Homo sapiens: one gene and its partner. The protein of the gene in region 1 purifies or fractionates together with the protein of each later gene. This does not show direct contact. Each region holds a gene or a part of one and is shown on either strand. Other genes may lie near its edges.

Region 1 (3,500 bases):
TTGTATTTTTTATAGAGACGGGGTTTCACCACGTTGCCCAGGCTGGTCTCAAACACCCAGGCTCAAGCGATCTGCCCAACTCGGCCTCCCGAACTGCTAGGATTACAGGTGTGAGCCACTGCATCCAACCTGAATCTTTTTTTTTCTCAAGATCCGTCTGGACTCATGGATAAAGGACAATTTTTAGGACTTTAGAGTTTAGTATGAATCAAATGAGAAGTCCCCCAGCGGATTCTGAACCGAGGAGTGCCACGGTCTCAGTAAAATGGAAAAACCTGTGGGCAGCCAGGGCAGAAGCTGGAGGGCGACCAGAGCAGTCAGAGGCTGCAGCCACAACACAGGTGGAGCGCGTGTGGGCTGGGGCACAACGGGGGTGGGGGGCAGATTGTGAATCTATTTCAAGGTTGCCTGATGCTGGAGTGGGGAGAGGGAGGGAAAGGAGGAGAGAACAGTACCAGAGAAGATGCCAAAGACTGCTCAGCGTAGAGAACAAGGGGGCCAGGAACCGAGAGGGAGACAGGAGGAGAAGCAGCCTCAGGGAGCAGATCGGGAGGTCAGTTTTGGACAGGGTAAGATGGGAACAGCTACGGGCTATCCAAGTAAAGATTGTGAGTGGGCAGCAGATATGTGGGAGACTCCAGCCGGCAGATAGAAATTTGAGAGTTGTCTAAATATGAAAGACGGTATTTAAAACCACAGAACTGAATGAGATCACCAAGGAAGAGAGCAGGCAGAAGAAAAAAAAAATCCAAGAGCAGAACCCCAAGATTTGAAGGGTCCAAACGGGAGGCCCTGACAGGGGAGATGTCGGCCACTGAGGGAGGAAAGGGAACCACAGCATAGTGGTGTGATAAGAAACAGTGAGTAAATAAAGATTTTTCTACAGCTGAAGCCTAACATTAGAACTTGGAGTTCTATATAATATAAATACTCACTAATCCAGCTGGGCGCGGTGGCTCACGCCTGTAATCCCAGCACTTCGGGAGGCCGAGGCAGGCGGATCACGAGGTCAAGAGACCGAGACCATCCTGGCCAACATGGTGAAACCCTGTCTCTACTAAAAATACAAAAAGTAGCTGGGTGCGGTGGTGTGCGCCTGTAGTCCCAGCTACTTGGGAGGCAGAGGCAGGAGAATCGCGTGAACAAGGGAGACGGAGGTTGCACTGAGCTGAGATCGCACCACTGCACTCCAGCCTAGGTGACAGAGCAAGACTCTGTCTCAAAAACAAAAAAAAAAGTACTTGCTGATGCGCCACGCTGCTTCCCCCTCCATCCCCCCACCAGAAGGCTCTGGCACTGTTCCATCCCCTAAGACACACAGACCATGGCCAACACGTCAGACTGCTTTGGCTGTTCTCTCCCCATGCTGTCCCAGGTGCTCAGTCCCACCACAGCCCCCACCACCACCCACTCATCCCCAACTGGATTCCCAAACATGCAATTACCTTCCACATCCTACTCAGCAGTTCTCACGGGACACAATACAGCTGGGACGGACTTGTGGACCACATTCCTAACTGAAATCTTTGAAAAACCTGAATGTACTCTGCAAACTTGGCTAACAGAATGCTACTGTGAGTAGAATAAATTATTAAATGAAAAAATACACTTTTTGGAAGACATTGTTAACCGTGCAGTAATGTAACCAAGAACCACGAATTCAGGTTTCACTATAAAAACCACCCTGATCAAAACAATGGCTGTGGCTCTCATGCAAAACAAACAGTAAAGCTGAAGCGGGGAGAGACTCCAACACCATTTCATCTAAAAAGGACCTTATCGCCTAGACTCCTTTGCTTATGGAAATTAAACTCCAAAGACCATCTGAGCCAAGGGCTATACTTTGATATTTAGAAGGTGATCACACTACTTAAACTCACTGCAATTTGGGATTTCTAAAATGCATTTTCCGAAGCCAAAACAAAGAGTGTTTACTTAGTCTAGCCTTGAAGGAGAAGGGCTCCCAGTCTAAAGCTTAAATATCTTTAGCATAGATCTCTGAAAATCTATAAATACGGCAGAAAAATAACTTTTGCAGTAAAAATCAGATATTAATATCTTCATATTTCTTCATTAGGGAGACCTTCATGTAAAATGCTTCCATCAATTACTGTGACTGCACATTCTTCACAAAACAGAACACAGCCCCTGTGCTGAAAACCTAACTGCATATATTCAAGTGTTTAGATGACCTCAAGCTCAAGTCTTCGAAGGGTTTCACACGCCACAGAGACAGGACATTAGGTGAGACACAGCATCACACAATGCACCAATTCTGTTAAACGCCGCATATTTATTACTGAGCGGTCACAATTCTTACAAGCACAAGTAGTCATTCTAGCCTTTATGGAACAGGACATTATTAAACTTTTCATTTCACATGTTATGATAAAAACACAAAATTATTAAGTTGAGAACTCTGTGTTCTCCCTCACTGTGCTCTTCTCCACTCTCATTTTCTATCAACATAGTGAAAGCGTCAGTAGAATTTAACTCATGATTAAAATTTGGAATTTCGAGTTCAGTTCAGTGTCACATTTTTAAAGTATTTTTAAGAGATCTCTAAATTGCAAGCATCTTTCTTCCCCCGAGACAGGGTCTTGCTCTATCTCCCAGGCTGGAGAGCAGTGGCACCATCATAGCTCACTGCAGCACCAACCTTCCAGGCTCAAGTGATCCTCCCGCCTCCGCCTCCGGGGTACCTGGGCGTACCACCATGCCCAGCTAATTTTTTGTATTTTTGTAGAGATGGGGTTTCACCATGTTGCCCAGGCTGGTCTCGAACTCCTGAGCTCAACTGATCGACCTGCCTGGACCTCCCAAAATGTTGGGATTACAGTTGTGAGCCACTGGGCCTGGCCGGCAAACACATTTTCAAAGCAGGATCATGAAGTTGTCAAGAGATTATGAATTGTAAACGAGTTTTTTTGTTTGTTTGTTTGTTTTGGAGACAGTCTTGTTCTGTCACCTAGACTGGAGCACAGCGGTGCAATCGTGGCTCACTGCAACCTCTGCCTTCTGGGTTCAAGCGATTCTCATGCCTCAGCCTCCTGAGTAGCTAGGAATACAGGCATGCACCACCATGACCAGCTAACTTTTGTATTTTAGTAGAGACGGCCAGGCTAATCTCGAATTCCTGGCTGCAAGTCATCCACCCACCTCAGCCTCCCAAAGTGCTGGGATTACAGGCATGAGCCACCGCACCCAGCGTAAATGGCTTTTTAAAAATACTGTATATTAAAAAGAATGTTGAATGATTTCTAAAATTTCAGACATTCCAAATAAAATTTACAACAGGAAAAAAAAAACTCTCTATTTTTCTAGTTCAATTATCATAGCCATGTCGGTACTTTTAAAAGCTTTCATCCTTACACTGAAATACTAATGAGTAGATCCTGTTTATTTTCTGGGTGTACACTAATTCTTTTCAACCCATCTTCATATGATTTTCAGCATGAACGGAGGAAGCTGTGACCCTAGAAATTGAGCAGCAGCCTTAG
Region 2 (3,069 bases), on another chromosome or scaffold:
AATGATTCCAATCCTGAAACCGACAACCGTCAAGAAAGTCCTTCCCAGGAAAACATTGACCGAGTGAGTGACAGGCCTTTGTGCCCTCAGCTTGGACAGCCTCGGGTGGGGTTGCTTGGGGTAACCCGGGTGAATCAGGCAGCAGGACTGGGGGAGTCCGTGCTGAAACCTTGGCTCCCAGGCTCCAGGTGTAACCTGCCCACCTCAGAGGCCACCCACGCAGTAACAGAGGGCAGGGGAGGCCTCCTTGGAAAGCAGGAAAACTGGGGAAGTGTCAGGAAGTTCTCTTTAGGTTTGCTGCCTTTGTCTATGCACCACTGTTTGCATCAGCCTCATTTCTCTGCCTGTGACCTAAAAGGATGGCACTGTGACCTGGGAAACCCATCCAGCTTTGTATCCCAAGTGACGGCTCTGTCCACATTTGTGCCCCTACACGCGTTAGCACGCCTGTATGCTGTGGCCACTGACCTCGCGGTGCTCGTGGTGAGGCTGGTGTGGCGCCCTGCTCTCAGCCCGAGGTCACTGCCTGTCCTGAGATGGCTGCTCCCTGACGCACCCGACTTGAGTCTTCCAAGCCCCCTTCCAGGTTGCTCTACGCTCACATTGCACAGAAGCATGACTTGTGCACAAAGGGCCATGGTGCACACGCCGGGAGCTCTTAAACATGAGAGTCGGCTGTCCACTCGTATGGCTGACGGGGGTGGCAGAAGAGGCGCCAGGGGCTGATGCTGTGACCCCTGCGCTCTCCCCTAGTTGGTGTACATGGGTTTTGATGCACTCGTGGCCGAAGCTGCGCTGAGAGTGTTCAGAGGCAACGTCCAGCTGGCCGCCCAGACCCTTGCTCACAACGGAGGAAGCCTGCCTCCCGAGCTGCCGCTGTCGCCAGAAGACTCTTTGTCCCCGCCAGCCACGTCCCCTTCTGACTCCGCAGGTAGGTCTGAGGTCTTTGAGGGCCGCATTGAGAGCAAAGTGTCTTCAGAAGCCAACAGATGTGGCCCTAAGCCACGGCAGATGTGGAGACTGAGGGGGCGTCCCCTGACGTCACCGGGCCGGCCACCTGGACAGTGTGGCCAGCAAGAGGCACAGTCTGAGGTTGACTGTGGTCGTGCAGTGTCCCCAGGACAATCCTCACATAATTCACTTACTCCTGCGGTATTTTATTGTAGGAACCTCTAGTGCCTCAACAGACGAAGACATGGAGACAGAGGCCGTCAATGAGATACTGGAAGACATTCCAGAGCATGAGGAAGACTATCTTGACTCAACTCTGGAAGATGAAGAAATTATTATTGCAGAGTACCTATCCTATGTAGAAAATAGGAAGTCAGCAACAAAGAAAAACTAAATAATGAACAGAAATAGCGCTAATTTTCTGCTTATAAATGCTATCATTATGAAAAGGCTAATGCAGCTCTTTCTGTTCTTACTTTTTATCTGAATTACAAGTCCTCTTTGGGTGTAGGAGGGGGTGGGCAGGGGACAAGTCCAGGAGGGGTCCCAGGGCCTTCATGCGTGGTCTCGGGGAAGAAGCTTCCTCTGGCCTGGCGCAGGCCGTTCCATCTGCCTCCCAGGTCTGCGTCCCTAACCCCTTCCCCAGCTTGGTGTTTTACCCCGAAACAGGAAGGAACAGGGGTCCTGTAGAACAGGGGTCCTGGGGAAGGTGTCCAGGGCAGGGTCCTGGGAAGGGTGTCCCGACCGCTTCCTCTCCAGCTGTGGCTCCATCTGCCCAGCTTGCCTGCCTCCTGCACCCACTGCCCTGACCTTCCTGCTTCCCACGCTGCCATCTCTGCCAGGGTGCCACATGGGTTCCTGTGCCACCCTTTCCCCGCCCCTCAAATCGTCCTTTAAGTCTTCCTTCCAAGTGCTGTGGGGCATAACGATGAGGCGCTGGCCTTGGGGGCCACACCAGGTCGCAGCAAATGGCTTCAGCCTGGGACGCCAGTGTTTTATGCTCTTAGTTCAGTAAAATACGCCCCCGAAATTCAAGATTGAGTGTCAGGCTTTATATATATTCAGCATTCCTCATTACAGAAATCTTCTATTGAATGGGAAAGGTTTAAATGCTAACCAAAGCAATTTATTTTTAATTAATATTTTTAGACTCTGTGCTGTCATACTGAACTCACTGCTAGCTAAGAGACCTATCAGAGATTTAGATATATTTTCTCCAGGTTTTTTGTGGGTTTTCTTTGTTGTTGTTGTTGTTCTAGCCATGTGACAGAGGCTCTTTCTAAAAGTATGTAGTTCGCTGTGTGTCGGCTCCAGCAGTAACCGTCCTCACTGCGCCACGCACTCCTCTGTAGATGTGTGCCCAGTGGGAGTTCCTTCCAGCCCCAGGACCACAGCAGCAGCCAGGTGCCGAGTGGATTGAGTGCCAGGTGCATCCAAGACTTTCCCTCCCTTCCAGAAGGCACTGACTGAAGACAGGATGGATCATGCGGAGCCGGCTGAAATGCTCCAACTTTTTCAAAGTGTGGGTGGTCCAGTTTGGACTGATGGGAATCTTCTTGTCATTCTTTTTAAACGGATGATACCGATGGAAATAAAAGGTGGGAAATATATTCAAAAATTGTCACCCTAATTTTGCATTAATTTACTCAGCCTCCCCAGCTGTAGGTGTTGAAAGTGTCTGGGTGACTAGCTCTTCATTTTGATTGCAGGATGTCTGTTTCCACTGAGTTTTGTGAGGAGATGATGGAAGGATGATCTCAGAAGCAGAGGGCATCTGCTGTGAAAGATGCCGCACGCCAAGCGGGGCTGGGGTGCATCCTGGGCAGGGGACTGAAATGTACCTGTCAGGGTTTGCCTCAGAAGTGCCTGGTGAGCTGAGGTGACGCGGAGTCTCAGCCTCATTTGACACAATGCCACACTTGGATTTGGGGCCTGAATTTAAGCTTTTGGCTAACAAATCGCTGTCCTGCGCTTGGTTCAGGCGTGTCTTCTAGCTTCCCAGCTGTTTTTAGCCATCATAGAAGCAATGCCACACCAGCAGGCCCCAAAACTCTTCCGTGTCTTGTGAAGAGAGAGCCGCAGAGGAAGCCGGCTGTGGAGGCAGTTCTGGGCATGCGC

The links. The genes of interacting proteins can lie anywhere in the genome.
Region 2: the proteins of FAT1 (region 1) and NUB1 purify together in Homo sapiens (affinity purification with western blotting, with the first as the bait; one study listed by BioGRID). This does not show direct contact.

What each region holds. Positions count from the first base shown.
Region 1 is NC_000004.12:186,713,857-186,717,356, forward strand, and holds part of FAT1 (protocadherin Fat 1 isoform 1 precursor), read right to left. Parts: intron 1-3,500.
Region 2 is NC_000007.14:151,375,881-151,378,949, forward strand, and holds the end of NUB1 (NEDD8 ultimate buster 1), read left to right. Parts: coding exon 1-63; exon of another isoform or gene 64-753; coding exon 754-931; exon of another isoform or gene 932-1,166; coding exon 1,167-1,345; 3' UTR 1,346-2,569; downstream 2,570-3,069. UniProt on the Homo sapiens protein: Specific down-regulator of the NEDD8 conjugation system. Recruits NEDD8, UBD, and their conjugates to the proteasome for degradation. Isoform 1 promotes the degradation of NEDD8 more efficiently than isoform 2.